3 linked regions of the Homo sapiens genome follow. The protein of the gene in region 3 purifies or fractionates together with the protein of the main gene of each other region. This does not show direct contact. Each region holds a gene or a part of one and is shown on either strand. Other genes may lie near its edges.

Evidence for each region.
Region 1: the proteins of STX7 (region 3) and PTTG1IP purify together in Homo sapiens (affinity purification with mass spectrometry; 4 studies listed by BioGRID and IntAct, with this or other methods). This does not show direct contact.
Region 2: the proteins of STX7 (region 3) and VAMP4 purify together in Homo sapiens (affinity purification with mass spectrometry; 5 studies listed by BioGRID and IntAct, with this or other methods). This does not show direct contact.

Annotation. Positions count from the first base shown.
Region 1 is NC_000021.9:44,863,578-44,867,231, reverse strand, and holds part of PTTG1IP (pituitary tumor-transforming gene 1 protein-interacting protein isoform 1 precursor), read left to right. Parts: intron 1-1,784; coding exon 1,785-1,837; intron 1,838-1,843; exon of another isoform or gene 1,844-3,264; intron 3,265-3,362; exon of another isoform or gene 3,363-3,439; intron 3,440-3,654. UniProt on the Homo sapiens protein: May facilitate PTTG1 nuclear translocation.
Region 2 is NC_000001.11:171,731,940-171,735,593, forward strand, and holds part of VAMP4 (vesicle-associated membrane protein 4), read right to left. Parts: intron 1-3,654. UniProt on the Homo sapiens protein: Involved in the pathway that functions to remove an inhibitor (probably synaptotagmin-4) of calcium-triggered exocytosis during the maturation of secretory granules.
Region 3 is NC_000006.12:132,468,008-132,471,661, forward strand, and holds part of STX7 (syntaxin-7), read right to left. Parts: intron 3,594-3,654; coding exon 3,456-3,593; intron 2,620-3,455; coding exon 2,567-2,619; intron 2,041-2,566; coding exon 1,944-2,040; intron 469-1,943; coding exon 396-468; intron 1-395. UniProt on the Homo sapiens protein: May be involved in protein trafficking from the plasma membrane to the early endosome (EE) as well as in homotypic fusion of endocytic organelles. Mediates the endocytic trafficking from early endosomes to late endosomes and lysosomes.

The sequences.
Region 1 (3,654 bases), on a different chromosome or scaffold from region 3:
GCCTAGCTCACCTCCAAAGGAGAGACACGTAAAACAGCCTTTTGTGTTTGGAATGCCTTTTCCAGAAGATCCCTTGATACGAGAGCCGCATGTTTGCTATTCTTGATGCCCTGCTGGTATCGTGTGAGTGTTCCAGTCTGTCTGTCCACCCTCCTACAGAGTGACATCTGGGCTGTGTTCAGCTTGGGGCTGTCACGGAGCCTTCCTGCGCAGGTCCATCTGTGGATGCAGGCGCCTTCTCTCCTGGATGAAATACTAAGAGTGGAATTGCTGAGTCATAGGTGGTCGCATGTTTGTTTAGGAGCAGCTGCCAGACCTTCTTTGCAAATGGTTGAGCCATTTACACTTCCACCAACACTGTGTGAGAGTTCTGTTGCTGTACATCCTTGCCAACATTTGGTATTGTCATTCTCTTTAATTTTAGCCATTCTGGTAGGTGTGTAGTCATCTGTCATTTGGAGTTTTAATTTGCCTTTGTCTGGTGACTGGTGATGAGCACAGAGCTCTTTTCAGCGTGCACTGTGTTTGTGTGTGTGTGTGTGTGTGTGTGTTATGGGATTGGAGTAGGCAGTCTGTGTGTGTGTGTGTGTGTGTGTTACGGGATTGGGGGAGTACGCAGTCTGTGTGTGTGTATGTGTGTTATGGGATTGGGGGAGTAGGCAGTCTGTGTGTGTGTTACGGGATTGGGGGAGTAGGCAGTCTGCGTGTGTGTTACGGGATTGGGGGAGTAGGCAGTCTGCGTGTGTGTGTGTGTGTGTGTTATGGGATTGGGGGAGTAGGCACTCTGTGTGTGTGTGTGTGTGTGTGTTATGGGATTGGAGTAGGCAGTCTCTGTGTGTGTGTGTGTGTGTGTGTGTTATGGGATTGGAGTAGGCAGTCTGTGTGTGTGTGTGTGTGTTATGGGATTGGGGGAGTAGGCAGTCTGTGTGTGTGTTACGGGATTGGGGGAGTAGGCAGTCTGCGTGTGTGTGTGTGTGTTATGGGATTGGGGGAGTAGGCTGTGTGTGTGTGTGTGTGTGTGTTACAGGATTGGGGGAGTAGGCAGTCAGCTTGGTTGCATGTTGGAAGTTACTCATGCAGTCGCTCTTGCTTCTGACTGGCTTGAGTTCCAGAGCTGTTGGCTGCGTGGAGTTTGACCCCTTCCTTAGTAGCAGCGCTTTGAGTAGTGGGCAGAGTCTCAGGGTGTTCTGTGTGGTTGGAGCAGGCTGGTGTGCCGGGCCTCTCCCTTGGTACAGGTTGGTACAGGGAGCATAGCCCAGTCTGGAGTGAGGCTACCAGGGGACTAAGACCTTGCTTTGTCACATGAGATCTGTAGGTGAGTCCAAAGACACAAGTGTGCTGCGTGGCAGTGTCGCTGGCGTTGCTGTGGCCTCGGATGGAGGCTCTTGGGTTCCCAAAAGAGTGCCTGCTGATGAGCAGAAGGTCCCAGCAGGTTTGTGGTTAGTGATTACACAGCCACAGGGCACACTTCCTCTCACAGAGAGATCTGAAACACAGCCTTCTGTGTTGGCACTCTTCTCTCCCAGAAGAGCCCTTGTGGATAGGAGCCGCATGTTTATACTCTTTGTGCCCTGCCTGCAGCGGGGTTCCTGAACACTCGTTCCACATGTCTTGAAGAAGGCTTGTTATCAGCAGGGGCTCAGGAAGAGGACCTTCATTTGGTAATTCCACATCAGAGGTTCTTGGTGCCACACCCCTCACTGGTGCCCACCCTGCCCTGCTGGACTAATATTTACACTGCCTGATTCTCAGTGACTGACTTGTCTCTTGCCTCTTTCCTGCAGCTTGTTCTCAGAACACAAACAAAACCTGTGAAGAGTGCCTGAAGAACGTCTCCGTAAGTAGCACGTGGACTAGAGACCAGAGTGCCGTCCAGACCGTCCAAAGGCACACGGGCTTTCTCTAGGTCCAGGGATTCGCTGGGATGTGTGGAGGGCTCTGTTGTTTGGGATTTGGGGGGATGTTTTTTGGAATCGTTATCAAATGTTATTTTAGCCATTTCAGGTATATTAAACCTTCTCATGAAAACTGCAGTTACTGTCTGAGCATGGTCAGTATCCATGATTTCACTCCTATGCAGATGGGGCCAGCACTGCGTGGCCAGTCTTCCTAACGAGGCCCATAGCGAGAAATTTGGCTGTCCGCAAAGCTACACCCTCAGGTTGTGAGCCCGTGTTTTCCCAGGCTGTCGGGCTGCAGCAGAGACTGCTTTCTCAGCTGCTCACACAGGATTGGAAGGGGCACAGCAAGGAGAGAGAGGCACCAGCCCTCTGGGCCGGTGGGCCAGGCTGTCCATAGCACTCTCTGGTCGTGACCTGGGGCTCAGGTTTGGATTTTAACTACCTGTGTGACCTTCAACAAGAGGGTAGCGGTCTGGAGCAAAGTTCCCTAAGCCTCCACGGCATGAGGTGGGGCCCGAGACTCCCCGGGGTGCCTTCCCGATGGAGACTGATGCAGATGCCCACCTGGAAGAAGGAGCACCCGTGGTGGGGAAGCAGCATCACAGTGCAGGTCTTGTTAAAGACGTGTGAACAGGGCTGGGTGCAGTGGCTCACGCCTGTAATCCCAGCACTTTGGGAGGCCGAGGCAGGTGGATCACGAGGTCAGCAGTTGGAGACCAGCCTGACCAACATGGTGAAACCCCGTCTCTACTAAAAATACAAAACAATTAGCTAGGCGTGGTGGCGGGTGCCTGTAATCCCAGCTACTTGAGAGGCTGAGGCAGGAGAATTTCTTGAAACCGGAAGTCGGAGGTTGCAGTGAGCCAAGATTGTGCCACTGCACTCTAGCCTGGGCAACAAGAGCAAAAAACTGTCTTTAAAAAACAAAAACAAAAACAAAAACGTGTGAACAGGGTCCTTTGGTTTTCTCTGCGTGGTGGCCTGCGCCTGGGCCAGCCTGGCTGGCACCTCTTGGGCTTGCCTTGCCACGCAGCTCTTGGTTCGGCAGCACCCAAGTCTCCTCGCAGCGCTATGAAATCAGCACGGGAAACCTGAGGGAAGGCCCACGGCAGCGGGAAGTGGTTAGGCAGAAAACAGCATCCTGTGGGGCCTTTTTCTTAGGATTCCTGATCTCGCCCACCCCTTGCCCCTTCCAGTCAGGAGTTTACCAGGTTTTGAGAACTGCAGGGCCAGAGGCTTCCTTTCCCCGGCAATGAGGTTTCATGATATGAGGAGGCCGGGAAAGATGTATTCGATGATTTCTATTCTAAGGCATGAGCCATGTTCTTAAAAACTCTTCTTCCTCCACGAGACCGTAGCGTAGGTTTGAGGAGGCCGGGAAAGATGTATTCGATGATTTCTATTCTAAGGCATGAGCCATGTTCTTAAAAACTCTTCTTCCTCCACGAGACCGTAGCGTAGGTTCGAGACACACCCTGTCAGTTTGTGGGACTTAAGTGGATACTTGCATTTGCTGATTAAAAATTGAAAGACGCTGTTTCTGTGGTTTCAGATCTTGACATTGGTGATGTTGAACCTGCTCTAATGCGCCTGGTCCTGGTGCATTTTCTAGATGGTGCTTCTTTTTAGTCTCTGGATTTTTCTATTGGAAGTCATTTCAGCTTTAAACATAGCTCACTATTGTATGTGGCTTTGTAGCCTAGAGTGCGTTTTTGCCATAGTACCCTGTGTAACCCTCACCACCCTGGGCAGG
Region 2 (3,654 bases), on a different chromosome or scaffold from region 3:
TAGCAACGAATGTTTAAATACCTAATAATATAGCTTAAAGTATCTTACAGAAGCTGCGCAAATTATGAGAAACAGTTACATCAAAATCATAGGGAGGATTTAACATACCCTTCAGAGATGGAGAAGCCAAACACACAAAAAAATCTAGAACTTTGAAACTAGACAGCAAATTTTATTTTATTTTCCTTTATGGGTAAGCCACAAAGGACATTTAATAAATTCCAAAAAATAGAAATTACACAAGTCATATTCTCTGACCATAATGCGATGGAAAAAGGAAGTTTTAAAATACTCTTCTCAGCTGGGTGCAGTGGCTCACACCTGTAATCCCAGCACTTTGGGAGGCCAAAGTGGGGGGATCACTTGAGCCCAGGAGTTCAAGACCAGCACTGGCAACATAGCAAGACCGTGTCTCTATGGGAAAAAAAAAAAAAAAAAAAAAATTTAATTAGCCAGGCATGGTGGCTCATGCCTGTAGTCCTAGCTATTCAGCAGGCTGATATGGGAGGATCTTTTAAGCCCAGGAATTTGAGGTTAGAGTGAGCTATGATCATGCCACTGCACTCCAACCTGGGTGACAAAAGGAGACCCTGTAGCAAAAAACCTCACAAAAAACAAAAAACATCCTTCTCATTAACTTTTATGTTAAATGTAAATAAAGGTGATTAGACTATTTTGAAATGAAAGACACTGGGAAGATCACAGGTCAAAATCTGAAGAGTATGGCCACAGCAGTACTTAAAGGAAAATGGGACCTTAGACATATTTTGTTATGAAATCACAAAGATTGAAAATATATAAATAGTTAACTCTTAAGATGGGTAAGTTATTCCTAAACAACACACAACTCCAGAAGTCTGAAAGAAAAAGATTAACATATTTGATTATATAAAAATTTAAAACTTGAACATAAGACATCAAAAACAAGGTTAAAAAACAAGCAACAGACTGGGAAAAAACATCTGCAGTATCCTTTAAGACAAAAGACCTGATGTCTGTATTATATAAAAAGCTTTGACAAACTAGTAAGAAAAAGAGACATTATAGAAAAACAAAGAATAGAAATAGATAATTCCCAATAGAAGAAATGGCCAATGACCACATGAAATGTTCAAAACCAATTAATATTCAAGGAAATGCATTAGGTCATTTTTTAAATAAATATTTCTTGAGTAATATTCTAGCTAACAAGTAACAGACAAGCATTACATTTATAATATAATGTATTTGGTTTATGGCCGGGCATGGTGGCTCACGCCTGTAACCCTGGCACTTTGGGAAGATGAGGAGGGAGGATCACTTGAGCCCCGGAGTTCGAAACCAGCCTGGGCAATACGGTGAAACCCCATCTCTACAAAAAAAAAAAAAAAAAAAAAAAAAATTAGGCGTGGTGGTGTATGCCTGTAATACCAGCTACTCTGAAGGCTACTTGGGGGGATTGCTTGAGCCCAGGAGGAGGCTGCAGAACCCTGATCGTGCCACTGCATTCCAGCCTGGGTGACAAAGCCAGACCCTGTCTCAAAATAATAATGATAATAGTAATAGTAATAATTTATTTGGTTTAGAGGATAATGATACTAAAGATATGTTTACTATAATTGTACACTGAGAAACACACATGAAAACCAATGCTTTTTCATATATTAATTGAATAAACACAAGTGCTAGGGATACAGTGTCAAAAAAGAATAATAGGACACAATGAGATAATATTTCATACCCACTAGGCAGATAATATTAAGTGTTGGTGAGGATGTGGAGAAATTAGAATCATCATACATTGCCGGTGAGAATGTAAAAATTGTACAACCACTTTGGAAAACAGCTGGGCAGTTCTTCAGAAGGCTGAACAGAGAGTTACTACAATACTCAGCAATTCTACCTTTAGGTATACACCAAAGAGAAATAAAAACATGCTCAAACAAAAACTGGTATGCTAATGCTCATAGCAGTAGTATTTAAAATAGCCAAAAGTAGAAAAAAACCCAAACATCTATGAACTGATAAATGGGCAAACCAAATGTGTTATATCAATATAAGGGAATATTATTAGCAATAAAAAGGAATGAAGATCTCCCAGCACTTTGGGAGGCCGAGGTGGGTGAATCACCTGAGGTCAGGAGTTCGAGACTAGCCTGGCCAACATGGTGGAACCCCATCTCTACTAAAAATACAAAAATTAGCTGGGCGTGGTGGTGTACGCCTGTAATCCCAGCTACTTGGGAGGCTGAGGCACGAAAATCACTTGAACCCAGGAGGTGGAGGTTGCAGTGAGCCGAGATCGCACCATTGGACTCCAGCCTGGGCAACAGAGGGAGACTCCGTCTCAAAAAAAAAAAAAAAAAAAAATGAAGCACTGATATGCACTATAACGTTGAGGAATCTTAAAAACATTATGCTAAGTCAAAGAAGCCAGTCACAAAAGGCTATATGTTATATGATTCCATTTACAGAAAACGTCCAGAATAGACAAATCTATAGGAGTGCAGTTGCTTAGAGGCTGAGGGGATAAAGAAAATGGGAGATGACTGCAAAAGGGCACAGCATTTCTTTTTGGGCTAATGAAAATATCCTAAAATTGATTGTGGTGATTGTTGCACAACTCTGTGAATATAATAAAACTCACTGAATTGTACACTTTAAGTGGGTGAATTGTATGGTACGTGACTTTTATCTCAATAAAGCTATTACCAAAAAAGTATAATAGGAAAGAGGAACAAAACTTTTAAAAGATTTTAAAAGTAATTTATATATTATTCTAACCAATCAGTTATCAAACTTCATAATATAATAAACATCAAAAAGGAGTTCTCTTGAAACAGTCAATTTTATTCAGTTCTGGTGTCTAATATACTAATAATCAATGAAGAATATAAGGAGAAAGTGATACAATTACAGTCTCAGCAGTGGAATTTATTGAGACAATACATTTTAAATTTAAAAATGTATTCATAAAGCTTATTTATTTGTATTATTTTTAATTTAAGGTTTACTATTGTTTTTCTTGAAGTAATTTTTCCTGCCCTTGTTATTAGGGTGGGCTTTATGTACTATTTAATCTGATTTCCACACATATTATTAAACTGGTATTTAATATCTACAAATAATAATTTTGTCACTATTTTCTCAGGATTATGACCAACATGCCATGAAACTGTGATCCTAGTATATCACGCCTGGACTTGATTTTTAAAAAGCAATCATATTCAAGTGACTGTGTCCTTAACAGTGATTCCATTAAGTGAACAACAAATTTACGTTCAGCAGTGATTGTGAGAAAGAAACACAGGGGAACTTAGGAAATATAAATAGTTTCAGTTTAAAATCATGTAAAAATAAAACTATAAAATTAATGGGATTTGCATCAATTAAAAATTATTAAATAATATACTCTTGCATACTATACATTGAATTTGGCTACAACCTTCTCTGCTTTACATACATTTTTCAAAATTGACATAGATTGTATGAATTACAAACAAGTTCCGAGAGGTGATTTTACTACATACATTTCCATACTTCAGTCTTCATCTTACACAAAGGCAGATGTGACTTAGGGGCTCTCTGTCCAGGACTGAGGTATTTACCTGACATATCTCAGATATCAGTCAATCAACTGTCAGCATTTATTGATCATCTTCCAGGATATTAATG
Region 3 (3,654 bases):
CAAGATGTCATGCACAGTTACATATACCACAAGTTTCCCCAAAAGTGCTTAGCATGATGACAAATAAATTGGAGTAAGACTAAAACCAGAGGCCCTGGAAATAAGCTGGAATAATGTTTCATGGTGCCTTCCATGGTCTTGGCAGCAATAGGCCCTGATTAAATTTGGGCTTCTGAAATAAATGAAGCTGGTTATTTCAACCAGCACGAGTTAAAAATGAGATCTGTTTTAGATAATGCCAAGGGTGATGCTTACTGTGTTTTATAGACCATGCTTTTGGTTCCAGGGAAACCAAAAAAGGGACAGAAAGTGGTTACTCTTCTGTGAGAAAGTTACAGCAGGTAAAGTGCATGTAGCTTGCTCTCACCTCCAAAATCTAAGTCAGCAGGTCTTACCTATTACATCTCCTTGTTCATGAATCATCATTCCCAAATCTTTAAATATTTCATTAATATCCATAATATCAGCCTAAGAGAAAACGCATATATTATTATAATCAGAAATTCAGTCCCCATTCCATAAAAGAGGAAAAATTTTAAAAACCCAAACCACTACTCACACATGGGTGAGCATGCATCTATAATACACAAATATAATACATAAACTTTGGAAATATCAGGAAAATATTTGACAATAATTAAGAAGAATTTGAACAATAGCCACCAGTTCTCTAAAATCAGTTTGTGGCATTAAAAATACCAAGTGAGCGAGGCAGGATGGAAATGAATGGAAATGAAGGATCTATAATAGAGAAGAGCCATGGATTGCTGAGTTCATTTTATACAACCTGATAGTTTTGTTATCACAAGCAGTATCTACTTACAAGGGTATAAAATATTCTTAGCATGTATTTCTAGTAAAATTTACACATCAATTTGACAATTTAAAGTAATAAAACATTAGGTGTAAATTTAAAGTCTCACATTAATAATTTGAACATGCAGTGGATTAGTGAAATGTCACTACTGAATAAAGAAGTTATAAACTTGGTGATTAAATATAAATTTACTTTTCTTCAATGACACAATTAACTGCTTCATAAAGTTTTTATAAGGACTAAATGAGATAATTAACATAAAGAATTCATCCCACAAGTGCCTGGCACATGGAAGGTCTTCAATAAATTGTAGCCATTGTTAGCTATTATTAGCCTTCTTTCTAGGAACTAAGTAGGTTCCATAAGAACTATGACTTAATAAATCCTTTAGATCTCTTTGATGTCATAAACATAGTAAAGAGAAATAAAATTCTTTGAAGGCCTTATAAAAGGTCTTACTCATGCAGGTATGATGTGTATCATGTGCTCTGGGAAGACATCCAGACTCTTGGACAGACATTTATCTCTACACTGGTATTTTCTCAATACTAAGGTGGTCCATAGATGGCTTGATATAACAATAATAATTTTTAAAAAGCTGCAGTAGGAGGGAGTATGATCCCTCGTCCTAGCACAAACAGTAAGGACAATATTATTTTTTTAAAAAAGGAATTATTCCAACTCATACATTACAAATGCTACCAAACTGATACATTAATTTTCTTTCTCTGGGCCAGACATGGTGGCTCACATCTATAATCCTAGTACTTTAGGAGGCCAAGGCAGGCAGATCACTTGAGACCAGGAGTTTGAGAACAGCCTGGCCAACATGGTGAAACCCTTTCTCTGCTAAAAGTACAAAAAATTAGCCAGGTGGGGTGACACGTGCCTGTAATCCCAGCTACTCAGCAAGCTGAGGCACAAGAATCGCTTGAAGCTGGGAGGCGGAGGTTGCAGTGAGCCGAGATTCCACCACCGCACTCCAGCCTGGGTGACAGAGGGAGACTGTCTCAAAAAGAAAACAAAATTTTTCTGTCTCATGCATTCTCCCAGCATTACCTAAGCATCTTGAGAACAAACTCACTAAGACCAGAGCAGCAGCCCAAGTCTACAATGTAAGCCTTACTTCAAGTTGCCTGATAGAAGATTCTCTCTCATGAATAAGACGGAGGTCATCCTCTGTAATTTCTTCATCCTGCACCTGCACTTGAGGTTGAGTTTGGCTAACAGAAAAAAATGAATGTGGAAAAAAACAAAGATTGGTATTCAAAACAATGGGACTCATTTCCTATTTAAGATATATTCATTAAATAGGATATTTTATTCTCCAAAGTCACAGAACTACTCAAAAAAATTCTAAGAATATAACAGATATATTAATAAAATTTATTCATTTTTCATTTCACTTATATCATTTTAGCTAATGTGAGTTTAGAGTTATTACTTAATTATTGGAAGCTGTATCTGTCAACTGGGTATTTCTTCTCAGCTGATTTAAACCTCATATAAGGGAATGTCTATATTAATAATTAAGTCCATAAACATTTATTTGGAAAACTTTATATATTTTGTAATAAATACTTTATAATTACTTAAAATTTTTTTCAAATTTACTCTGTTTTCAACATATAAACAACTTAGGATATTTATGATATAATATATTGAAAGCTTTAATTCTGTTCCAGGGACCTTAATGTATAAACTTTGAAAAATTACCTTTTGATCTGTAAAATGTTTTGTATTTCTTACCTTTCCCAGGATACAAGATTCCTTTCTTTTGAGCTGTCCTCAGGAAAACTGCCCTGAATAATTTAGTAACAGGATGGAATGAGAAGGGGCAAAAAAAGCAAAAATGAGAAAAAATAAACACTCATATTTTCCCTTATAATAAACTAAACTGATTTATGTACGTGTCTGTGTGTATGTGTGTGTGTGTGTAGAGACAGAGAGAAAGAAGTTCTTGTTCTAATTTTTCAGGTCAACTGCTTCAAGTAATAATATAATTATAAGTAATTTTATATTCTAAGTAGACAAGAAAGGAATTCACTAAATATTCTCAAGGATCAAATAAGTATTATTTAGTTAAAGCTTAATGTAGTCTTGGAATCCATATGTTAATGAATAAGAAAATAACTCATGATAGTTTCTAAGGGAATTTAAAATTAGATTAATTCAAAATTCTATTGTAAAGCTTCCTTTCATTTATTTTCTCCAGGCTCATGTTCATTTTCAATATTGATACAACATACTTGCGCCATTCATCTCCGTCATCTTGGTGTAATCCAGGAGGAAAGTGCTTTCTACACTAGCGTGTACACAAGCAGAAAGCCTCAGTACCAAGACGATGTGAGAATACTACTCAGGATTTGATCCCTAATCTTTTTTGACAAAATATGTCTCTATATTTTTATATACTCTGTAATCTTCTGTACTATGACACAAAAAATCACCACCGTAATACAAAATTATCATCCTTTTCTAAAAATGGAGCAGGAAAGCATAAAAATAAATATTCAAGAGCTGATTTCCAAGATATTCACAGATCTTTATGACTTAAAAAATTATGCTACTATAGACTTTTATGGGACCCTTAGCAAGTAACCATGTTCATTTCTAGAATGTCTTTTAAAATACTTACAGACACTCTGGAACTGGCTCTTACTCGAGCAACAAACTCTTTCTCTCGCTCAGCAGCCTGCCTCTGGACCTTCTGGAAGTTTGTCAGTGATGTTGTGAACTCTGCCACTAAGCGATCCTTCTGTATTTTCCTTTGACGCTAGAGGAAAGAGAAGAAAAAGCCAACTAGAATCTAGCTGTGAAGTTCAACTGAATTTGCG